Linked DNA regions of Homo sapiens. The protein of the gene in region 1 interacts with the protein of each later gene in a pairwise test. Each region holds a gene or a part of one and is shown in the gene's direction. Other genes may lie near its edges.

Region 1 (3,500 bases):
AAAGAAGTTAAAGTGAGCCCGGTTGGCATATTTGTGCAAAAGCAGCTGTAGGGTTGGAATTTCCTGGGTTGGGGTGTAGCTGCGCACGTTGATAGAAGGAGAGTTGGGCAGGGCATAGATGCAGGGATGGGGATATGATGACTGGCTGTGGAATTTCAGCTGGGACTGAGTTACCTGAGCACATGGGGGTGGGCAATGGGCAGTGAAAAGTGTTCCATTCAGTGGGTGTCGGGTCTCAACAGACTCCTGAGCTGTAGTACTGAAGTGAGTGACCTACAGTGGCAGGAAGGTAGTGGCTGTATGTTGGGAAGATGGAGAAACAGCTGAGTGCAGTGGTCAAGGGCTGGGACACTGCAGCCCCACTGCTTGTAATTCAACTCCAGCTTGACGATTGCTAGCTCGGGAACCATGGGCAAATTATTTATCTCTGTGCCGAAATTTCCTTATCTGCAAAAGGAGACACGGTAAGAGAACTTATGTCAGAGTTATTTGGAGGATTGAAAGGTTCCTGTGTAATGGGTTTATTTAAATTTTTCAGGATGTGATCTGACCCATGATTGCTCTTTATCATTGCTATTATTAATATTATGTAGATGTTGCAGTCATTGGGAATGATAAAATCTAGGGGATGACTGTATAAGTGAGTGCCACGTAGAGGAGAGGAGAACACTGTTGTTGGAGATTAGGTCAAGGTGCAGAAAGGCAATCATTATTGGAAGGTTCATCCGTGTGCATACTGAAATGACCAAGATTTATTACCTGTTTAAAATCTTAGTAAGAAAGAATGTTTCTTAGTTAATTTCTGTATATATCTTACCCATCTGTGGTCAACAAATTATAGGAAGGGTCGTCAAATACTCTACATTCAAAATCAAGAATTAAGACATATGTGTTGATTATGTATGTAGAAGAAAGAAAATTCCTTAATCACTGATGAAAAAGGTTATTATATCATTTTAGCATATGGGTGGTGAACACAGTTGTTTAAAATTGGTCATAAACATTGTTTAAAAGAAAGTGTTAAGAAGTATAGATTTAAAGAGTATTCCTATAAAGCTAATGCAGAATTATGTTTTGTAAGTATTAAAAATTACCCAATTTTCATCACTATTTTTTTGTGCTTCTAGAAAGCATTTCAAGAAAAACAGAAGAGGTGGCAACAACCTACAGGTGTTAGGAGCTGGAGGCTGAGAGAGATGAAGCCGCTACTTGAGCAATTACTAAAGGTCTGTTCTATTTGGTAACATAATACATTATAAAATACAACACGTGCATAACAGAAGAAAGTCTGTTTGTTTCCGAATGTATGGAAAGACATTTTGGTTATGCATTTTAAATTACTTACCATTTTCACTTTGAATGTATTGTTCCAAATTTAACATAACTGGTAAATGTATTTTTAGGATTCGTGAATAGTTTTGTGGGAGTTATTTAGAACAGGAAAAGGTAAATTGGAAATTTTACCTGGAAATATACATCTTGTGTATATTGTTAACGCATTGACACATTTATGCCGGAGGCTGCACATTTTTTGTGTGTGAAGAAACAGACCTTGGCTATGTTCTTGAGCGGTAGGAGATACATGATTCCCACAAGCTTAGCGTTCCAATAATGGAACACTAGGCATAAATGGGTTTTAATGAAGATTTTATTTTCAGTTTTCAGGACATCAATGACACATCTATGGTGGAAGGCAGGAAGACCATAAATCCTTTCTGGATGTCTTTTTTACTTGTGTTGTTTCAAGAGTTTTAGTTAAATAGGAAGTAGGCAAGTGTAACTACTGAGTGTCTCTTTTATTTCCTGCTGTAATACAGGAGTGTTTTATGGCATATTCACTTTCAAAATTATCAGCGACTAGTAATGGTTTTACATGACAATTTGTAGTCATAAGAGATGGTTCAGATGTATAACAGAATGGGAAAGCCAGCAAATTATTAACACGTTGTGAATTGTGAATTATCTGCTGTCGTATAGCACATTAGCAAATTGTCATCAATGACCTCTTCTTCATGTAGATGTACATTATTTAGGTAACAATGGAATTCCCTTCTGGGAGGTAAGGTATTCTTTTTAATAACCTTGTGAAAAGACATGTTCATATGTCACTCCTCTACACTAACTGAGATGTGTTAAATAAACTGAGAAAAGAGTTTGAAAATAAAATTTTCAAGCAACTTGAGAATGATCTATACACAAAACAGTTATTTAAATAGAAGTCACAAGTAGAGAAAATGTTGCTATAATGTTCACCAGAAACCATTTATTAATTGGTATGAACATGAGACTAGAAGTTTTCCTGTCAATGTTAATGCTACATGTTACCACTTAGGGTAGGAACTTTGCTATCATCTTGGACTCTTCTAAGTCCCTTATCCTTCCCATGCAGTTATCATGAGGCAAGTTTTACCTCTGTAATGGCCCTTAAATTTCTTTTTTTAAAATTCCCACCGCAGCTGCCCTAGTTCAAGACCTCATTCTTCCTTGCTTGTACTATTAAACTCTTTTCTGAGTTCTCTCTTCTCTTCTGAGCCATCCTTCATTGATCGGCAATATTATCTTCCTAAAACCCTCCCCTTCCTAAAATGCTTCCTAGCCCTTCCCTCTTCCCAGCCTGTCAGTGATGCCCCGTCTCAGTTCTTAGATATTCAGAGACTCTCCCCTTTACATGACCCCCTCTTAGGCTTGCCGCCCTCTGTCTTTGCTCCTGCCTATCCAGGTTGACAGCTTTCCCTGAAGGAATTCACTGTTACTCTTATGCTTTTCTCATGCTCTTCCCTCACAATGCTTTAAAAAAATTTTTTTTTGACTAAGACCAATTTAAACCTTTTGCCAACTAAGTCAACATACGTCTCCATTTTTGGCTACATGTCTGAGTGAGTTGCCCTTCCATAGCAGTTATACAATTTTTGTATTAATTTTTTTTATTTGTGCATTTGCTCATGTCACAGGATTATGGAAGAGATTGTGCTTACATTTTTTACATCTTCCTTAGCATTAACATACACCATTTTCAGGAGTAGGAACTGTTGAACTATTTGTTGAGGGAATAGTATATATTTCAAACATAGTTACATTTTTCTCTAACTTGATGAGGTCATATCACCAACCATTTTATCCCTTCAATGGAAACCACTTTCCGTAGACTATTGCTGATAATACATGGGTCACTACCTGCTGAAAAAATATATTTCATGGTAAGCCTGCCTGACTTTTTCTGTCTTTGCTCCATCTTGACCTTAAGATGCTCATCAACCCATTTTATTCAAGCAAAGTACATGACAATTGGACCTGCTAAAATAATATTTCACTGAAATCTGGCATTAAAAAATTTAAGTGGGTATTTGGAGCTCCATGTATTGGTTACAGTTTTTTTCAAATTGAAATAAATAACCAGCATCCTTTGAATATTAAAAGCTGTTTCCTTTTGACATCTGATTAACCCTGTTTAAAACGTGAGATGTAAAGTGGTGGTTTGTCAGTGAACTAGACTTTTTCTT
Region 2 (3,500 bases), on another chromosome or scaffold:
ACCTATAGGAAAGTTACTCCAATAAAAACTATTTCATCATTATCAGAATTGGAACTCCCTTTAAGGAATTTATTATATAATGAGACAAAACAAATACACATTAAACAATAAGTGAAATAATTCCCAAGATTTTTGAACAGATGCTTGGTTTTGTGAACCAGAGGAGAGCCTTGAAGACTTGAGCAGATAGGAATGGCTTTCTGGAGAAAGCACATGCTGAGCTAAGAGTTAAGGGTTCGGTTAGGTCCGAGTGGTTTTCAGAGGCAAGAGAGGACATTCTAGTTAAATCAACAAGTTGGGAATGAATATCACTTGTTCTTAGGACAAGGAGATTTGCCTGCTTTTAGTTGGAAGTACTCACTGAGTATCTTGGGCAGTGTGGATGGTTGAGAAGGTTGGGGCCAATATACAGAGGATCTGAGCGTTTAGATCTGATACCGTAAAAAAGATGAGCTGCTGAAAGTCTTTGAATGGTGGAATCACAGGAATGAAAGATGAATCTTAGCAATTTGCAGAATAGACAAAAAAAAGATTATAATTAAGTCCACTGGGAGGCTGTTGGTTTTGTTCAGGTCTGGATGATAAGGGTTTGTAACGAGGCTATTAGTACATGAGAAGAAAGGAAGAAAATTATATAAGAGAGAGAATCACAGAATGTAGAGGGTAATTTGATATTTGGAAAATGCCAGGGAGAGGGATTTACTCTGTTTCTTTAATAGTCTAGAATTTACTATCTTCTAGTAAACCAAAATTTTATGAGCACATGATATATGTAAAGAACTGTGATAGGGTGTGTGTGTGCATGTGTGTGTGTGTGTGTGTGTGTATTTATATTGACTTCTGTCTATTGCTGATTCTAGTTTTAGATGGTATAACTTGAAGGACAGTGCCCCTCTCTGTTCTCTCAAAAAATACCAAGTGCTCATTAAAAGTTATATTACTCTTTGGGCCCCCAGTAAATTCTTATTGACTAACAAAATTTTATCTTACCCGTAAGAGACACTGTTGATGTAAAGTCATTCCAGTATCTAATGATTTAAGTTGTATTTTAAGCCTATTTTCTCTTCCAGATTCTCTTACATGTTGGAAATGTATTTGAAAAAATTCTCACTTCTGCAAGGCCAGTTTTCAGAACCCATATTGAATTTGAAGGCTACAGATGAAGGACAGATGGTCATATCTGATCTTGAATATGTTTTTGGAAGAAATTTTTACAGAAGACTTTCATTATAGGGATTCTCTACTGTCATTAATCACTTAATTTAAGTTATCCTAACCTTTCTATGACTAAGCCATGTAAATGATTATTTTTCCCTTTTCCTAGTTTTATATCTTTGAAGAATCTATTCACTCTACCTTGAGTGTCTTAATATTTCTCAAAATTAATTTTTATATATTTATTCAGAATATACTATTCACTTATTTGGGGCTATGTATTTAGCAAGAAACTCTTTAAAGTTGAAATTTAAGTTAATCTGTGTTCTCATTTAATTTTAGGTGACTGAACTTGAATGTGTTAGTAGCCAAGCAAATGCAGTACATACTCATAAGACAGAATTAAATCAGACAATACAAGAACTGGAAGAGACACTGAAACTGAAGGAAGAGGTATTTGCTGCTTTTTACTCATCTGTAATCTAGCTAACATGTTTGTACAAAGTATTAGATTCCATGTCAAATTTAAAAGTATTTTATGGAATAAAGTCAGGTTGTGACCTCTTTTTTAGGATGAAATTTTTCTTGAGTGGTATTAAGCTTGCTCATATTTTCTCTATCCTTATTTCTGTTATTATGAACTGTGGTGAGGCAGTCAGACCGAGATACCACCTGTTGCCTTCCAGATGAGAGTTGCATTTATACAGTCAACAGAAAATCATTAGGGGTTAAATGGATTTTAAAAGCTGTTGGTTTCTCTGGGTTCCAGTCAAAACTTTAATATCTTAGGAAAGAATTATATCCACAAAGCTTGAAGCAACATTAAAATGTTCAGGTTGTTATTTCTAAGCATTGCTGTACCAGAAGCACCAAGTTAGACTTGTTGCTGTTGCTTAAGATTATTGTTCTAGACAACATACATATAAAGATGAATTCATCCCTCTAAAAGTCAATATGAAGGAATGTTTTTAAAATCATCTTTTTCTAAGAACTAGAACAATAATTTCAGGGAAAAACAAGACCTTCCCTTGCCTTGATATAGTTTGAATGTTAAGACATTGCTCTGTCTTTTCTAGGAAATAGAAAGGTTAAAACAAGAAATTGATAATGCCAGAGAACTACAAGAACAGAGGGATTCTTTGACTCAGAAACTACAGGTGAGCTGTAGTAAAAATTGTTATTCACTTCTGCATAGAAAGGCATCATTTTTTCACATAGCACTGACTTTTTTTCTGAGACTCCATTTTGTAGGTTTTTGGTCATTTTTCTTTTCCGGGACTTCTGATTCATGCCTAATCTTTGATTTTTAAAAAGTTACTTGATAACTTCATCTATGTAGCTTATAATTATCATAGATGGTCATTTATAAATTGTAAATTATTTAGTAAATCCTTTTGGAAATTTCTACTTTTAATTAAAAAAAAATACTCTGGGTTTGGGCATGGTGGCTCATACTTGTAATTTCAGCACTTTGGGATGCTGAGGAGGAGGATCACTTGAGCCCAGGAGGTTGAGGCTGCAATGAGTCATAATCACACCACTATACTGCAGCCTGGAACAGAGTGGGATCCTGTCTTAATAAAAAGAAAGAGAGAGAGAAAGAAAGAAAACCCTGAATTTAAAGAAAAATTTGCAAATTGATTTCATTCAATTTGGGAACATTATTATTATTATTATTATTATTTTACAATGTACTAATGTATGAATTATACCAATAGTTGTGCCCTAATGGAACACAAGTTAGTACTTTTCGTTCTTCAGTGTAATTAATTTTACTCACTTTTTTCTGCATAAATAGTATTCTTCCTGATTCCAGTGTACAAAAAACATCATGTGTCAGTGATAGTCAGACATGGTAAGGGAAGATTTCTCAGAATTTATTACCAAAGTCTTCTCTTGCCAGCTCAGGCAGTTTTCTTACACCCTCAGCGTTAGGTGCCTCAATAAAGAAGGGTTAGGATGACTTTGGAGTAGAAATAAGTATATGTATAGAGTGAGGAATCTGAGATAAGGCATAATAAGAGGGACCTGAAAGCCCAGGATTGGAAAGAGGACCTAGATTATAATAAGAACAGCCAACATTTATTGAGTGCTTGCAACATATCGGACACTGGGCTTAGCACTTTACCTGTATTATGCATTTAATCCATGTAACAGTCATAATAACCCAGATGAAGAAACTGAAGCTTGGAGAGGTTAACTTGTCCAACCTATATTTAAATGGAGACAGTCAAATTTTAAAATCCAAATCTTTGACCACTAAGATAATGGTCAAAATACATTATTTTAGTAGTCAAAGACATGGGCTTTAAACCCCTTCATAATAATCCTTCATGAAATAAACA
Region 3 (3,500 bases), on another chromosome or scaffold:
ACATTTGTTGATTTTTTTTAGCTTAAAATTTAGTAACTCTGGGTTTGAAGGCCACGGTTATTTTTGTTCTATGCATGTTTGTGTTTTTATTTTGCCAAATAGGAAAGTTAGATTGTCTTTTCTGTCTTTGGACATAAGTGCATGGGAACACCATGGTATCACTTTAATTGGTGGATGCTATTAAAGGGACTAAATTCTGTCTAAAAATACCATGCTGGTGTTTATGATAAATTTAATGAAAAGAGCTTGTCATGAAACAGGCACAGTATCTAAATTTTAGGAAAACGTAGGTGCATACATATGAACGAAAAACACAGAGCATATATGAAAATATAGTGGTCATTGGGTATTGGGAATGCAGGTAATTTTTTTCTAACGTATCTTTTAGTGAGCAAATATTTTGTAAAAAGGAAGAAAAATTGATCTCTTTAGTGTGATCTCTTTGAGACATGGGCTTGTTGGTGAATAGTACTCACTGCACAGTGGTTTGGTAAGGTTTCAGTGCACAATGACAATTTATGATACTTTTAAGTATCTTTTTAAAATCTGCATAATTCAAACTGCTTCCTAAGTTTAGTGATGTTTATTATGAGGAAGAGGAAACAGATAAATCCTTGTAATGCCATCCATCTAACGCTTTTCTCCTTGTTTCGGGCCACCTGCTCAATGTGTGATGTATTAAAATTGCCTTCTAACTTACTGTCCTGCTTCTGCCTTCCTTGCGTGTTCTCCTTGCATACAGGGATGGCACATGGGAACTCTGCCTCTAATCTCAATCCCTTTGTAATGTGGACACATGGTAGTCCAACTGATAATCCGCTTTTACCTTGGTGATTCAGTTGTTTAAAGAAAAGTTTTTCTGTTGTGCATGGTGGCCCACCCCTGTAATCCCAGCACTTGGGGAGGCCGAGGTGAGTGGATCACTTGAGCCTAGGGGTTCACGACTAGCCTGGGCAACATGGCAAAACCCCATCTCTACAAGAAATACAAAAATTAGCCAGGCAGGCAGTGGTGGTGCATATCTGTAGCTGCTCAGGAGGCTAAGGTGGAAGTATTGCTTGAGCCCCAGAGGCAAAAGCTGCAGTGAGCCAAAATTGCACCACTGTACTCAAACCTGGGCAACAGAGTGAGACCCTGTCTGAAAAAAAGGAAAAGAAAAAAGAAAAATTTTGTCAGAGGCTTCAGAAATGAATCATTCTCTTGAGCATTTGCTTACTTTAGACAGGGTCTCCCTCACCTAGGCTGGAGTGCAGTGGTGTAATCATGGCTCCCTGCAGCCTCAACCTCCTGGGCTCAGGTGATCCTCCCACCTCAGCCTCCCTACAGGCACATGCCACCACGCCCAGCTAATTTGTTTTTGTATTTTTTTGTAGAGACAGGGTTTCACCATGTTGCCCAGGCTGGTCTTGAACTCCTGGGCTCATGTGATTTTCCTGCTTAAGCCTCCCAAAGTGCTAAGATTACAGGTGTGAACCACCATGCCCAGCCTTTTTTTAAATCTATCACTAAGATTATATGATCACTATACTCTGGTTGTTTATGAGCATTTAAATTAATTTTTATATAAAAAATTAAAAAGTTAGCATAGTCTAGGTGGAATTCCTTCCGTTTTCTCTGTTCTTTGCTGTCCTCCTGATCAAATACTTAGCGGAGCACTTGGAAGCTTTTAAAGTCTTCTATGGAGATTAATTTTTGTTTGTTTGTTTGTTTTGTTTTGTTTTTTTTTTGAGATGGAGTTTCACTCTTGTTACCCTCTTGTTGCGATCTCAGTTCACCACAGCCTCCACCTCCCAGGTTCAAGCAGTTCTCCTGCCTTAGCCTCCTGAGTAGCTGGGATTACAGGCATGTGCCACCACGCCCAGCTATTTTGTATTTTTAGTAGAGACAGGGTTTCTCCATGTTGGTCAGGCTGATCTCAAATTCCCAACCAGGTGACAGCCCGCCTGGACCTCGCAAAGTGCTGGGATTACAGGCATGTGCCACCATGACCAACTAATTTTGTATTTTTAGTAGAGACGGGGTTTCTCCATCTTGGTCAGGCTGGTCTCAAACTCCTGACCTCAGGTGATCCGCCTGCCTCGGCCTCCCAAAGTGCTGGGATTACAGGCCTGAGCCACCACACCCGGCTGGAGATTAATGTTTTAAACTGATGCGTCTCCCTTATCATCCCCACAAAAAAGGAGAAACTCAGAATATTTGCTATCTTTCTAATTTTCATAGCAGTAAATAGTGAATATTGAGCACTTAGTACTACTTTTTAAGCACTTTACATGCACTGTACATGGGTATTATAATAGCTTAGTCTTTATAATCTTTAAAATATGAGGTTAAAGAGAATTTTAGAGCTGAGGTAATAAAGACATAGAAATGAAGTAATATTCCAAGGCTAAGCAGCAAAGGGCAGAGTTCACACCCCTGACTATTATATTAATTGACTGCTAGTACCGTAACTTCTAATTGCTACAGTAACTGGTTTCTGCCGTTTGTTTCTTTCTGTTTGCTGTGTATACACAAAGATGAAATGGTCTGGTTCCTTCCTACTTTCAGCTTCATCACACTTCACTGAAAAAGGTCATGTTTTACAATTGGAGTGTAGAACAAACTCTGATGTGCGTTTCAGTTCTAGCTATGTGATCTTAGGCTAGTTAATCTTATTTGTAAAGTGGCAATAAAATTGGTACCTACCTTTATAAGGCTGTGAAGATTAAGTGAGAACATTTACAAAAGGGCACAGTGAGTAGTATGTGTTAAGTATTCAGTGTTAACTTTTGTCTACTCTGAAGGTATTGCCAGACATTGAGCTTTCTCACCAAAACAGTAATAATAAGGTTTACTTGTGTCTGCTTTTATTGGACATGATATATTTAGATGCTGCCTCTTTGCTTAAAGAGAAAAGTTTGCCTACCAGGCTTTCTTCTCACGGATTCTAGGCTTGAGGTTTATTCTGTATAAATTATTTGGCCAGGTATGTTTTTCATCAGATTGTTACTTTGAAACAGAAGCTTAGGCTTATTTTCTGCGAAGCATTTCCCACGCAAACTTAGTGACATTTTAATATGAAATTATTTGCATTAATACCATTCTAAAAAATGTTTTCTCTTTTTTTCCCATGCCTATTGCAAATTTTGTGCAAAATCTGGTTCTTAATCATTATTACATTGGTTTACCTTTGCATCACATATGAATAGCTGTACTTTGCTACTTTTGACTAATACTTTTTCTTCCAAGAGTTAGAATATCATAGCATAATGTTTCAAGAGGATTATTGTTAGATTGGCACAATAGTTAAAGGAATGCTTTAGGACAAATGTCTGAAATGTGATATTTAAGCTTGGTCCTAGATGTCCATGTTGAGATTTCCTGGGAATAAAATGGCTTAGTTGGGCATTGGACAGTGTAGTTAAGTAAACCCTATCTTGACAAAATGATTCAGATATGTGCTTATATTCTTAGGTGACCGGGTTATTGATGTGGGATCTGAATGGCGAACTTTCAGCAAT
Region 4 (3,500 bases), on another chromosome or scaffold:
AAAAAAAAAAAAAAAGGCCGGGCACTGTGGCTCATGTAATCCCAGCACTTTGGGAGGCCGAGGCGGGCGGATCATGAGGTCAGGAGATTGAGAACATCCTGGCTAACACGGTGAAACACTGTCTCTACTAAAAATACAAAAAATTAGCTGGGCATGGTGGCGGGCGCCTGTAATCCCAGCTACTTGGGAGGCTGAGGCAGGAGAATGGCGTGAACCCAGGAGGCGGAGGTTGCAGTGAGCCAAGATCACGCCACTGCACTCCAGCCTGGGCGACAGAGTGAGACTCCGTCTCAAAAAAAAAAAAAAAAAGGCTGGGCGCGGTGGCTCATGCCTGTAATCCCAGCACTTTGGGAGGCCGAGACGGGCGGATCACCTGAGGTCAGGAGTTTGAGACCAGCCTGACCAATGTGATGAAACCCCGTCTCTACTGAAAATACAAAAATTAGCCAAGCATGGTGGCATGCGCCTGTCATCCCACTCAAGAGGCTGAGACAGGAGAATTGCTTGAACCTGGGAGGCAGAGGTTGCAATGAGCCCAGATCGCGCCATTGCACTCTAGCCTGCGCAACAAAAGTGAAACTCCACCTCAAAAAACAAAAACAAAAACAAAAACAAAAAAACCCAAAAACGCTGGGCTTGGTGGCTCATGGCCTGTAATCCCAGCACTTTGGGAGGCTGAGGCAGACGGATCACGAGGTCAGGAGTTCGAGACCAGCCTGGCCAACATGGTAAAACCCCGTCTCTACTAAAAATACAAAAATTAGCCGGGCGTGGTGGTGAGTGCCTGTAATCCCACTACTTGGGAGGCTGAGGCAGGAGAATTGCTTGAACCCGGGAGGCAGAGGTTGCAGTGAGCTGAGATCATGCCACAGCACTCTAGTCTGGGCAACAGAATGAGACACTCTCATCTCAAAAAAAAAAAAAAAAGGACTTACAGGCATGTCTGCTCTTAAAAGTCACTAATTTTTTTCTCACTCAGGAAAGCTTATCAGAATTTGGGGGAATGAGCAAGATGCTGACATTAAGCATTGCCTGGGAAGGGCCTATTATTTCCGTTATTTCTGCTTTTATGTAACCATTGGTTACTTTGGGGGCTATAACACGTATAATTAAAAAAAAAAAAAAAAAGGCCAAGTGTGGTGGCTCACACCTGTAATCTCAGCACTTTCGGAGGCTAAGATGGGAGGATCACAAGGTCAGGAGTTCGAGACCAGCCTGGCCAACATGGTGAAACCCTGTCTGTACTAGAAATACAAAAATTAGCCAGGTGTCGTGGTGGGTGCCTGTAGTCCCAGCTACTCAGGAGGCTGAGGCAGGAGAATTGCTGGAACCCAGGAGGCAGAGGTTGGAGTTAGCCAAGATCGTGCCACTGCACTCCCAGCCTGGGTGACAGAGTGAGAGTTCGTATCAAAAAAAAAAAAAAAAAAAAAATCTTGAGTGCTTACCTTGTGCTAGGCACTGTATTCTTTTATGATCTCAGTTAGTCCCCACAGCAACCCTATAAGGTGTCAGTACTGTTATAACTGAAACTAAGAGAGGCATTTGAAACTTTGTTGAAGTCTCACAACTAGGAAATGGCAGAACCAAGATTTGAACTTGGGTCAGTATAGGTCCAGAGCTGAGCTCTTCAATGTTAGACTGCTTCCTCTGCTTATTACTAATAACACCGAACTTTGGACAGACGCTGAATGACTGATTGTGACATTCCAGCACGTTTTTTTTTTTTTTTTTGAGACAGTCTCGTGTGGTCGCCCAGGCTGGAGTGCAGTGGCACGATCTCGGCTCACTGCAAGCTCCGCCTCCCGGGTTCACACCATTCTCCTGCCTCAGCCTCCTGAGTAGCTGGGACTACAGGTGCCCGCCACCACGCCTGGCTAATTTTTTGTACTTTTAGTAGAGACGGGGTTTCAGCGTGTTAGCCAAGATGGTCTTGATTTCCTGACCTCGAGATCCACCTGCCTTGGACTCCCAAAGTGCTGGGATTACAGGCGTGAGCCACTGCTCCTGGCCAGGTTTTTTTTTTTTTTTTTTTTTTTTTTGAGATGGAGTTTTGCTCTTGTTGTCCAGGCTGGAGTGCAACGGCCTGCAGTCGTGGTTCACTGCAACCTCTGCCTCCCGGGTTCAAGCCATTCACCTGCCTCAGCCTCCCAAGTAGCTGGGATTACAGGCGCCTGCCACCATGCCCGGCTAATTTTTGTGTTTTTAGTAGGGATGGGGTTTCACCATGTTGGCCAGGCTGGCCTCAAACTCCTGACCTCAGGCGATCTGCCCTCCTCGGGCTTCCAAAGTGCTGGGATTATAGGTGTGAGCCACTGCACCCCGCCAATCCAGCAAGTTTTAACTTGGCCAAAATCCACCAATCTTAAACTTTGTGCACCCTTCCCACTCTGAAGAACAGTGAGCCAGCCGGCCAGGGTGCGGGTATCTCCTACCTACCCTGGGGCCCCTCACTGTATGTTGACTATTGACAAATATTTATTGTGTGCTGGCTGTGAATAGGACTTGTATATTGAGCACTTAGGTGTCATGAACCATGCTGGATGTTTTGACCATATTATCCCCTTTAATTCTCACGACCCAACTCTGTGGGGCACTTTTACAGCTGGGAAACTGAGGGTTCAAGGGGTTAGGTATGGGACTTGCCCAAGGTCATAAAGGTATGTGGTAGCCAGAGTCCCTGTTCGGCACAGACCTGTTCTTTGCTGTCCTGGCCAGTGTTCCAGGCCTTGGGGACATAGCTGGGGCTGAAGCAGGGCTGTTTCTGCCCTCAGGCAGTTTACATCCTGGCAGAGGGGAGAGCTGGGCAACAGTGAGTTGCACAGACTTGTCTTATTACCGCTGTGGTATGTGCAGGAAGGGGAGGTGCTGGTTCTGAGGCTCCAGAGGGCTTGTCTTTTTTTTTTTTTTTTTGAGACGGAGTCTCGCTTTGTTGCCCAGGCTAGAGTCCAGTGGCGCGATCTCGGCTCAGTGCAAGCTCCGCCTCCCGGGTTCAAGCGATTCTCCTGCCTCAGCCTCCCCAATAGCTGGGATTACAGGCGCATGGCACCACGCACGGCTAATTTTGGTATTTTTAGTAGAGACTGGGTTTCACCATGTTAGCCAGGATGGTCTCGATCTCCTGACCTCGTGATCCACCCGCCTCGGCCTCCCAAAGTGCTGGGATTACGCTCCCGGCCTCTTTTTTTTTTTAGACAGAGTCTCACTCTGTTGCCAGGCTATAGTACAGTGGCACGATCTCAGCTTACTGCAACCTCCGCCTCCCAGGTTCAAGCGATTGTTCTCCCTCAGCCTCCCGAGTAGCTGGGACTACAGGCACACGCCCAGCTAATTTTTGTATTTTTAGTAGAGACAGGGTTTCACCGTGTTGGTCAGGCTGGTCTCAAACTCCTCACCTCGTGATCTGCCTGCCTCGGCCTCCCAAAGTGCTGGGATTATAGGCGTGAGCCACTGCGCCTGGCCTTTTTTTTTTTTTGGTACAGAGTTTCGCTCTGGTTGCCCAG
Region 5 (3,500 bases), on another chromosome or scaffold:
GCTGGGACCACAGGTGCACACCATCACGCCGGCTAATTTTTGTATTTTAGTAGAAACGGGGTTTCACCATATTGGCCAGGCTGGTCTCAAACTCCTGACCTCGTGATCCGCCCACCTCAGCCTCCCAAAGTGCTGGGATTACAGGCGTGAGCCACCGCGCCTGCCATGTGCCTGCATTTTTCTAGGGGGAGAATCTCACTTGATGTCACCTGATATACAGAGGGGCCCATTGGAACCCGCATTGCACAACATCCTGGAGTCTGGCTACTCCACGCTTTGGGAGCAGGGAGGGCTGTTGGCAGAGACCATCTGTGGACTAGCTGGGGGACCCTTGTGAGGTAGCAGTGGATGATGGCTCTCGGGCTGACTTCTTTGCCCAGGAAGAAGGTGTGCAGCGGGCCCGGGAGGAGGAGGAGAAGCGCAAGGAGGTGACCTCGCACTTCCAGGTGACACTGAATGACATTCAGCTGCAGATGGAACAGCACAATGAGCGCAACTCCAAGCTGCGCCAAGAGAACATGGAGCTGGCTGAGAGGCTCAAGAAGCTGATTGAGCAGTATGAGCTGCGCGAGGAGGTAAGGGTATCACGGACAGCAGTCATGGCCCAGAAATTGTGAGGTTTTGAGTGTGTGCTAGGCACTGGGACAGTACCTTTTCAGGCTTCATCCCATTCTCCCTTTCTTCCTCCTCCTCCTCCTTGGGAGGAGAGTAATGTTATTCCTCATAGATAAAAAACAGGTGTGGAGAAGAGACTCACTTACAGCCACACAGCCCCAGGTCCACAGTGCCTTGTCCCAAATGACTGGGCCAGGCATCTTTTGGAATTAGAACTATCCACATTTTAGAATGGAGGTACATGTATGGACTGTGTGTTATATAGCACCCTCAGCAGGGCCTTGGGGAAGCCAGACACATTAATGTATTTATGCAGTAGAACTTCCAAATACTCACCTACATTATGGGCTTACAATGATGCAGGTCAAGTCTGGCTGCCAGCTTATGACAATTTCCATTTTCAGAACTTTGTAGAATTTGGAATTGCAGGGGAGGGGTGTACCTGTGATCAGTGATGGACTCCAGAGACTGTGTCCACTGATTCCTTGCTGCTCCTGCCACTCAAAAGGCAGAATTTATCAGGCTGGGCGTGGTGGCTCATGCCTGTAATCCCAACACTTTGGGAGGCCAAAGCGGGCGGATCACCTGAGGTCAGGAGTTCAAGACCAGCCTGGCCAACATGGTGAAACCCTGTCTCTACTAAAAATACAAAAAATTAGCCAGGTGTGGTGGTGCACGGCTGTAGTCCCAGCTACTCAGGAGGCTGAGGCAGGAGAATTGCTTGAACCCAGGAGGCAGAGGTTGCAATGAGCCAAGATTGTGCTACTGCACTCTAGCCTGGGTGATATACCGAGACTCCATCTCAAAAAAAAAAAAAAAAAAAAGCAGGATGTCACTCCCTTTGTCACTGCGTTGGCTGCCACCCCAGGCACTTGAATCTTTGGATCTTCCCTGCCAGTCACCTGGCTGTTCTGGGCGCGTTCTCATCATGAGAAGGGAGACCTGCAGCCCCCTTACAGGGCTGGCAGAGGACCTGCTCTGGATTAGGCCCTTTCCTAGCCCCTGGGGTGTGGCAGTGGGTGAGACCGGGAAGATCTGCCCTCTTAGGTTCATAGGCCAAAGTGATGATCGTGTGTGCAGGACCTAGAGGGCGCTCCCCTGACCCACCCCTTTCCTTGCCATACTTCATCCTCTGGGAACAAAGCTGCTTGTTTGGTTTGAGGGGAGTTGGTTTGGTTCTTATCCCTCAGCGCTGAGACATAGAGGCTTCCTGGGCCACTACAGTGAGACACGAACTTCAAGAATCTGAATACCCCCGTTTTCTCTCCCCGCCAAGGCAAAAAAGGACTTAGTACTACCTGTGGAGAAGGAGGTGCAGGACTACCAGGCCCTGCTGCTTTGCATTTACAGCCCTCCCCAGACAGACACAGGCACCCTCATCATACCCAAACTGGACTTACCTGCTAGGCACCTTCCCTTCCCCATCCAAAAAAATGGAGTTATTTTCCCTTATTTCAGCAAGTCCAGTTGATTTTACCTTTGAAGTAGCACCTGAGTCCTTCACCTTCTCTCCATCCCTTCTCTCTCACCTGACACAGGTCTGCAGCGCTCCTCTAGTAGGCAGGACAGCCATTCCTTGGGGATGCACATGTCTAGTCTTTGCCTAGATATGGCAAGTCTTTGCCAACTGAGCTAGGCTGTTATGTTCTTAGAGGCATTGTTTTTGCCCATTCTTCCCATTTACAAGAGAATCAGGGACACAGAAGTGAGGGCTTCCAGCCCCATAGGTGATCAATCCTGGGGTCAGAGATTTGAGTGTGTTTATTGCTTGCCTTCTTGGGAGCAGATTCCATCCATAAACCATGTGCTTACCAAGGTCTGACTCACTGGGAGAGAAACGACGTGAGGTTGGAAAGCTGACCTTCCAGAGACTTGGGGCCCATGTTGTGTGGTACACATGGGAGTCCATCATATCAGATTGAGATGGGGGGCTGGGCAAAGTGCCCTGGTCTGTGGCTGTGGGGCTACCCTGAGAAAGGGAGCGCCTGACAAGCCGACTGCTCCCACCATCTTTGTTGCAGCATATCGACAAAGTCTTCAAACACAAGGACCTACAACAGCAGCTGGTGGATGCCAAGCTCCAGCAGGCCCAGGAGATGCTAAAGGAGGCAGAAGAGCGGCACCAGCGGGAGAAGGATTTTGTGAGGCTCAGGCCCCAGGGTTGGGGTGGGGGTGGGAGGAGACAGGCTGGGCTCTGGCTCAGCTCATAGCCGGGTTATATGGGAGAAGTCTGGCCAGACCAGGCACAGATTCCTTGAGTACCAGTCTGAGAGCAGGAAGCCTCAGTGGGTCTGGTGCTTGTGGCTAAAAACCAAACATAGCCCCTGGGGGCTTCTGACAGGATCTGGGGTTCTGTCTTGGAAATAGCTCCTGAAAGAGGCAGTAGAGTCCCAGAGGATGTGTGAGCTGATGAAGCAGCAAGAGACCCACCTGAAGCAACAGGTGAGAGCATATAACCTGACCCTGTGCCTTCAAGTTTCCCTCACTGGGCCCCATCCTGGGGGTAGTGAAATGGGACCCTCATTCTAGGACTGGCTGTGTCCTGGCTGCTATGACGCCTTGGTTGAGCCTTTGTTCTCTCCGGACCTGCACAGTACCTATGTGGTGGTGACCAGGTAGTTAGGTGGGCTCAGAGGACTTCATTTGTAGCTCAGAAATGTATTGCTTTTGAGGAGGTAGGAACAGAAGAGTTTGAAAATCAACATAAAGGCAAAATAAAAGTCACCCTAAGTCTCCTACTTTCCAGGCTTAGCATTTTGGATTATATCCTTCCAAATATATAGCTTTGCTTTGTTTTAAGGAAAAATAGTATCTCAATAGAATTACTGGTCAGAGAGTCAAGGACGGGTCTGAGTGTGTTGACCAGAGTGCCTCCCAGAGAAACC
Region 6 (3,500 bases), on another chromosome or scaffold:
GCCAATATGGTGAAACCCTGTCTCTATTAAAAATACAAAAATTAGCTGGATGTGGTGGCACGCGCCTGTAGTCCCGGCTACTTGGGAGGCTGAGGCAGGAGAATCGCTTGAACCCGGGAGGCGGACCTTGAAGTGAGCCGAGATTGCGCCACTGCACTCCAGACTGGGTAACAGCGAGACTCCGTCTCAAAAAAAAAAAATAAATAAATAAGCGGACATTGTGGTGCGCGCCTGTGGTCCCAGCTACGTGGGAGGCTGAGGCAGGACAATTGCTTGAACCTGGCTGGTCGAGGTTGCAGTGAGCCAAGATTGCGCCACTGCCCTCCAGCCTGAATGACAGCGAAACTGCATCTCCAAAAAAAAAAAGTTGGACAGATTTTGAATGTTCAGGCTTTTTTTTTTCAATAGGGGCCTTTCAAATCCCACAATGATACACTTCTTACATTTAACCCAACACAGGCGTACAGCCATGTAACACATTCAGCAAAACAGTATTTACTGTTATGTGCACTGTGTGCTGGTATTTTTTTGTCCCATTTGGTCTCTTAAAATGCTGGTCATGACCTACAAAATTGATTTCCTGACCCACTGTTGATCAGTACTCTGTTTGAAAAATGCTTTTCTAAAGCATAGGCAGGAACTTCACCAGCTGCCTCTTGACACCACTTGAGTTTTGTTAACTCTTCGTCTTCTGGCCTCCATCTTGGGCTCTAGGATTTTTTATCCCTTGTTTGCTTAATTTGGCAGGTTCCTTCTGCCCTTGCCTCTGTAAGGTCTCTGATTGATGGAAGTTCCTGATCTCTCTATTTGAGGATTCCAAAATCATTTCTCTCTTTTTTTTTTTTTTCCAAATAGAGTCTCACTCTGTCCTCCAGGTGAGAATGCAGTGGTGCAATCTCGGCTCACTGCAGCCTCCGACTCCCAGGTTCAGATGATTCTCCTGCCTCAGCCTGCTGAGTAGCTGGGACTACAGGCATGCACCACCACATCCGGGCAATTTATTTATTTATTTATTTTTTTGAGACTGAGTTTCGCTCTTGTTGCCCAGGCTGGAGTGCAATGACGCAATCTCAGCTTACTGCAACCTCCGCCTCCCAGGTTCTAGCAATTTTCCTGCCTCAGCCTCCCAAGTAGCTGGGATTACAGGCATGCACCACCACGCCCGGCTAATTTTTTTTGTATTTTTAGTAGAGACGGGGTTTCTCCATGTTGAGGCTGGTCTCGAACTCCTGACCTCAGGTGATCTGCCCACCTTGGCCTCCCAAAGTGCTGGGATTACAGGCGTGAGCCACTGCACCCGGCAGCAGCTAATTTTTGTATTTGTAGTAGAGACGGGGTTTCACCATGTTGGCCAGGCTGGTCTCGAACTCCTGACCTCAGTTAATCTACCCGCCTCAGCTTCCCAAAGTGCTGAGATTACAGCCTAAAATCATTTCTCTTGACAAAACTATTTCTTGCATCAATTTACTGGGTCGTGGGTGGATAATACATAGAATGAGTTAGTAACTTCGGTGACAACTCTATCTCACAGAACGTTTACCTCTTAAAAGTGTATTTTGGCCTGGTGTGGTGGTTCACCTTTGGGAGACTGAGGCAGGAGGGTTGCTTTAGGCCAAGAGTTTGAGACAAGCCTGGGCAATATGGTGAGACACCATTTCTACCACAAAAAGAAAAAAACATTTAGCCAGGCATGGTGACACACACTTGTAGTCCCAGCTACTTAAAAGGCTGAGTTGGCCGGGCGCAGTGGCTCATACCAGTAATCCCAGCACTTTGGGAGGCCAAGGCAGGCAGATCACCTGAGGCCAGGAGTTCAAGACCAGCCTGACCAACATGGAGAAACCCCGTCTCTACTAAAAATACAAAATTAGACGGATGTGGTAGTGCGTGTCTGTAATCCCAGCTACTCAGGAGGCTGAGGCAGGAGAATCGCTTGAACCTGGGAGGCAGAGGTTGTGGTGAGGCAAGATTGTGCTATTGCACTCCAGCCTGGGCAACCAGAGTGAAACTCTGTCTCAAAAAAAAAAAAAAAAAAGGGCTGAGTCAGGAGGATTGCTTGAGCCCAGGAGCTCAAGGTTACAGTCAGCTGTGATCATGCCACTGCACTCCAGGCTGGTAACAGAGTGAGATGCCATCTTTAAAAAAAAATAAATATGGCCAGGCGCGGTGGCTCACGCCTGTAATCCCAGCACTTTGGGAGGCTGAGATGGGTGGATTAAGAGGTCAGGAGTTCGAGACCAGCCTGGCCAACATGGTGAAACTCCATCTCTACTAAAAATACAAAAATTAGCTGGGCGTGGTGGCGGGTGACTGTAATCCCAGCTACTCAGGAGGCTGAGGCAGGAGAATCGCTTGAACCTAGGAGGCGGAGGTTGCCGTGAGGCAAGATTGTGCCACTACACTCCAGTCTGGGGACAGAGCAAGACTCTGTCTCAAAAAATAATAATAATAAATACAATGAGCTTCTCAAGGGGTTGCCTGCCCTCAGGTAGGCTGCTGTGGGGCACCTGACCTTTTGTGGGGCAGCTCAGTAAGGAGAAACCCTTTAGTGAGGACACTGTTCTGACAGGGCCAAGGCCTGCCTCACTTTTTTTTTTTTTTTAATGAAAAAGTAAAATTTAATGTGGAAAATGCAAACTTGGGGAGGGCAGAAAGATCACACACAAGGCTGTCACTTCACACTTGGAGGGTTGCACAGTGGCCCAACAGAGGCACACCTCACTTGCCAGACGGTGGGGCAGGTGGGCAGAGGTGCTCCTCTCTCCCCAGTCAGTTGGGTGGCCGGGCAGAGGCGCTCCTCACTTCCCAGTCGGTGGGGCGGCCAGGCAGAGCTGCCTCACTTTTTAAAACTGCTGTATCCCACCGGGCGCGGTGGCTCACACCTGTAATCCCAGCACTTTGGGAGGCCAAGGCGTGTGGATCACCTGAGGTCAGGAGTTTTAAGACCAGCCTGACCAATATGGTGAAACCCCGTCTCTACTAAAATTACAAAAATTAGCCAAGTGTGGGGGTGTGCGCCTGTAGTCCCAGCTACTTGGGAGGCTGAGGCAGGAGAATCGCTTGAACCTGGGAGGCGGAGGTTGCAGTGAGCCGAGATCGTGCCACTGCACTCCAGCCTGGGTGACAGAGTGAGACTCTGTCTCAAAAAACACAACAAAACAAAACCCCGCTGTATCCTTACTTCTTGCACTTTATATGTTTGAGAAGGGAGAGGTTTAAACCACAGTAGCATTTCTTCATCCTCCATCCCCTTTGTAATGTAATATTTAAGAATGGCAGGAATCAATTTGGGGAGCTAGCTTGACTGTTACCCATTAATGAACATTTATCTATCCTGTGGTGACATGTTGCCACACCAGGAAATGGAGACTGGTTCTTCCCTGATGGGAGGAGATGACAACTATGCCATAGGCAAGCATCTTGCCGCTCCCAAGAAAGAGAAGTCTCCGCTGCCATCCCACAGCCTTTGGGTCACTGGAGCATGTATCAGTGCCACTCCG
Region 7 (3,500 bases), on another chromosome or scaffold:
TTTCGTAAGACCTCATATCTACCGATGTGATTATTTTGAGTATGTTAATATACTTCAAAGCAAAATGACAGTATGTAAAACACAAAGCTCAATCACTCATTCATCACGTATTTATTGACTATCTGCCATGTGCCAAGCACTGTTACATATTGTGGGGTAATATCAGCAAACAAAACAGGCAAAGATGCTTGCCTTTATGGAGCTCACATTATAAGGTGACACTGAAAATAAAATAATGTTTAGGGCAAACATGGTCTCTGCTCTCACAACACTTAGCCTAGGTAGAAATACAAAGCAAGCCGTTGGTAGACAGGCCATGTGGTAGGCAGAAAAGCAGAAGGTGCCTGGTATTGTGAAGGCATCTAACTGTGACTGAGGTACATCTAGCAGAGTTTCCCAGGTGAAGTTATCTTGGTAGGAATAATCTAGATGAAGAAAGGGACAGGGATGAATATTCTAAGCAAGGAAGAATATGTTTATAAAAAAGCCAGAAGAAAGAGAGTAGGGAAAGTTCGGGGAACTGATAGTAGTCCATTCAGGCTGGAGCATAGTGTTCAAGAATGGAATGGTAGATGAATCTAGAGGAGTTAAGCAGGGTCATACCATGAATGGCTTTTAAAGTAAGTTGTTGTAAGGAGTTTGGAATTTATATATTGAGGAACCATTAAAGCAGGGGAGCGATATGTAGCATTTGAAGGATGAATATCAAAAAATCGTTTCAAGGAATAAGGTAAATAAAGTCACTTTGGTGTTTGTTTCTGCACATTAACACTTCAAAACTTGGCCTAGAATAAAATTGAGCACGTCCATGAAACCAATTTTGAACCTCAAAAATGAATGGTAGCCTAATCATTAGTTATTTTAATAGAATATACAGGAGCATTTACATAACTATATATTTGAGGTTTTATTAGTGGTGTTAATATCTCAAGGCAGAACAGCACTTTATCTTCACATCATTATAACTATTTTAAGCCCAAGAAGCCTTAGTACTTTTTTCCACTTTATCCTGAAACTCTGGAAGTGCGGCATAGGGGTTGCTTATACTCGCATTCTACTTAAAGCCACACTATGCTTAGGACTTGGCCATTTAAACAAAATCCAGTTGTTGCGTTATTACTGCTCTTTGAGATAAGCTCCAGCAATACAAAGTAAAACCAGTGCTACTATTCTAGAAAAGAAAGTCTAGCTTGTCTCTCCACCCTCAATTATATTATTGCTAATGACCAATGACATTGGAGGAAGTTTTATCTCTTTAATTTGTTGCAGGTTATGCTTTTTAAGATAATACATAGAAATATTCAAATATAGAACTTGACAAATCATCCAGCTTCACACTAACACATTCAAAAACTATTTATGAAGAAGAGAACCAGATTGTATTGTTAATAGTTGCAATAACAGTACCAACAGGTAGTAGAAGTAACTGAATAACAGCCATCACTTTGGTTGAGCTTAAGTTGTGCATAGGTGCTCTTCCAGACACCTCATGTGTATTATTAACTTTATAATCCTCACCACCAAATGAGGTAGGTACTATTATTATCCATATTTTAAAGATGAGAAAGCAGAAGTACTAGTCACAAGATTAGCAATTTTTTTAATAATTGGAAGGCTTTTGCATTTCAAGCTCCAGTGGCTTAATTGACATTTTTATAGAATGAGTAATTGCTATGATTTTTTAACGTATCAATAAAAGTTCTTAGAAGGTAAAAATGGCCTTTCAGTTCATTTTTTAAATCTTTAACTCTGCAAAATTGACATAGGTACACTTCAGTGGCTAATCAAAGGCTAAAATCATACTAGTAGATTTGGAAGTAAAATATGGTTAGAGAACTAAAAAAGCCATGTGTATATACATATTCATATAAATAGAGCTTTTTCTTATCTTCAGAAATGTATGTATTTAATCCCTACTGAAGAACCGAGTTCACTGAGGAAAGGATACTAGGACAGGTGGTCTTAATTTTAGAGAGGAAAAGCTATATTTAAAACTATTTCACCCTTTATCCATCAGAGAAACATTTGCTTTTCATTTTTAAAATGTACTGTTCCAGATGTGGGGGATATAGTATATAAATAAAATAATCAAAATTCCTGCCTTCCTGGAATCTACATTCTATATGGGGGCAGAAGGGAGCAGAAAAGCAATATGTATATAAATTATATAGTATATTAGAAGGTGAAAATGGTGTACCGGAAAATATAGCAGGAAACTACTTTGATGGGAGTAGAGAAAGACGTGAGAAAGCACACATGCAGGCATCTGAGAGAAGATGCTCCAGGTAGAGGGTGCAGCAAGTACAAAAACCCTGAGGGCATGACATAGCTGGTATGGTCAAGGAACAGCAAGGAGGGCTTGGCTAGAGACGAGTAGAGGAAACGGGGAGCCAAAACATATAGGGCTTCGACTTTGGTCTTTACTCAGAGATGAGGCGCCTTTGGAAATTTTGAGCTGAAGAGTGACATAATTTTAGGCTTTAACAGAATCATTCTGGCTGCCACGTTGAGGATAGGTGTTGGGTGGAAGCTGACTGATCTGTTTCAAACTTATTGCAATAATGTAGTCAGTAATTCAGTCAGAAGATGGCAGTGGCTTGGATCAGGGTAATTGTGGTAGGTAGGATGGAAGTGGTCAGGTCCTGTGGGCCTGTGGGTGTTGTTTGTTTTTTGTTTGTTTGTTTTGTTTTGTTTTGTTTTGTTTTTTTGAGACAGAGTCTTGCTCTGTTGCCCAGGCTGGAGTGCAGTGGCGCAATCTCGGCTCACTGCAAGCTCCTCCATCTGGGTTTATGCCATTCTCCTGCCTCAGCCACCCGAGTAGCGGGGACTACAGGCACCCACCACCACACCCAGCTAATTTTTTGTATTTTTAGTAGAGACAGGGTTTCACCGTGTTAGCCAGGATGGTCTCGATCTCCTGACCTTGTGATCTGCCCGCCTCGGCCTCCCAAAGTGCTGGGATTACAGGCGTGACTGTGGGTGTATTTTAGACTTAAAGCCAGAAGGATTTGCTTGACAGACTGTATGTATATTGGACACAAAGAGGTCAAGAATTATTGCAAGGTTTTGTTTTGTTTTGTTTTAGAGACAGAGTTTCACTCTTCCAGTCCAAGGTGGAGTACAATGGCGCAACTTCGGCTCACTGCAACCTCTGCCTCCCGGGTTCAAGAGATTCTCCTGCCTCAGCCTCCCAAGTAGCTAGGATTACAGGTGTGCGCCACCATGCCCAGCTAATTTTTTGCATTTTTAGTAGAAAAGGGGTTTCACCATGTTAGCCAGGCTGGTCTTGAACTCCTGGCCTCAGGCTATCTGCCCGCCTCAGCCTCTCAAAGTGCTGGGATTATAGGCGTGAGCCACCACGTCCATCTGCAAGTTTTTGACCTAAGTAACTGAAAGAATGGGGAGTTGTAGATAGTTAAAATGGGGAATGCCAGAGGAGGCAAAGATTTCAGGGATGGAGGTCTGGGAAGTATGTCAGTTATATTAGAAGCCCAGTTTTA

The links.
Region 2: the proteins of FAM9A (region 1) and HOMER1 interact in binary tests that used the Homo sapiens proteins (3 or more experiments, as listed by UniProt).
Region 3: the proteins of FAM9A (region 1) and GTF2B interact in binary tests that used the Homo sapiens proteins (3 or more experiments, as listed by UniProt).
Region 4: the proteins of FAM9A (region 1) and ESRRA interact in binary tests that used the Homo sapiens proteins (3 or more experiments, as listed by UniProt).
Region 5: the proteins of FAM9A (region 1) and TXLNA interact in binary tests that used the Homo sapiens proteins (3 or more experiments, as listed by UniProt).
Region 6: the proteins of FAM9A (region 1) and STIP1 interact in binary tests that used the Homo sapiens proteins (3 or more experiments, as listed by UniProt).
Region 7: the proteins of FAM9A (region 1) and SH3GLB1 interact in binary tests that used the Homo sapiens proteins (3 or more experiments, as listed by UniProt).

Annotation. Positions count from the first base shown.
Region 1 is NC_000023.11:8,791,384-8,794,883, reverse strand, and holds part of FAM9A (protein FAM9A), read left to right. Parts: intron 1-1,127; coding exon 1,128-1,226; intron 1,227-3,500.
Region 2 is NC_000005.10:79,395,635-79,399,134, reverse strand, and holds part of HOMER1 (homer protein homolog 1), read left to right. Parts: intron 1-1,497; coding exon 1,498-1,608; intron 1,609-2,231; coding exon 2,232-2,312; intron 2,313-3,500. UniProt on the Homo sapiens protein: Postsynaptic density scaffolding protein. Binds and cross-links cytoplasmic regions of GRM1, GRM5, ITPR1, DNM3, RYR1, RYR2, SHANK1 and SHANK3.
Region 3 is NC_000001.11:88,864,068-88,867,567, reverse strand, and holds part of GTF2B (transcription initiation factor IIB), read left to right. Parts: intron 1-3,453; coding exon 3,454-3,500. UniProt on the Homo sapiens protein: General transcription factor that plays a role in transcription initiation by RNA polymerase II (Pol II). Involved in the pre-initiation complex (PIC) formation and Pol II recruitment at promoter DNA.
Region 4 is NC_000011.10:64,308,524-64,312,023, forward strand, and holds part of ESRRA (steroid hormone receptor ERR1), read left to right. Parts: intron 1-3,500. UniProt on the Homo sapiens protein: Binds to an ERR-alpha response element (ERRE) containing a single consensus half-site, 5'-TNAAGGTCA-3'. Can bind to the medium-chain acyl coenzyme A dehydrogenase (MCAD) response element NRRE-1 and may act as an important regulator of MCAD promoter.
Region 5 is NC_000001.11:32,189,675-32,193,174, forward strand, and holds part of TXLNA (alpha-taxilin), read left to right. Parts: intron 1-380; coding exon 381-575; intron 576-2,636; coding exon 2,637-2,756; intron 2,757-2,982; coding exon 2,983-3,057; intron 3,058-3,500. UniProt on the Homo sapiens protein: May be involved in intracellular vesicle traffic and potentially in calcium-dependent exocytosis in neuroendocrine cells.
Region 6 is NC_000011.10:64,189,171-64,192,670, forward strand, and holds part of STIP1 (stress-induced-phosphoprotein 1), read left to right. Parts: intron 1-3,500. UniProt on the Homo sapiens protein: Acts as a co-chaperone for HSP90AA1. Mediates the association of the molecular chaperones HSPA8/HSC70 and HSP90.
Region 7 is NC_000001.11:86,735,576-86,739,075, forward strand, and holds part of SH3GLB1 (endophilin-B1), read left to right. Parts: intron 1-3,500. UniProt on the Homo sapiens protein: May be required for normal outer mitochondrial membrane dynamics. Required for coatomer-mediated retrograde transport in certain cells. May recruit other proteins to membranes with high curvature. May promote membrane fusion.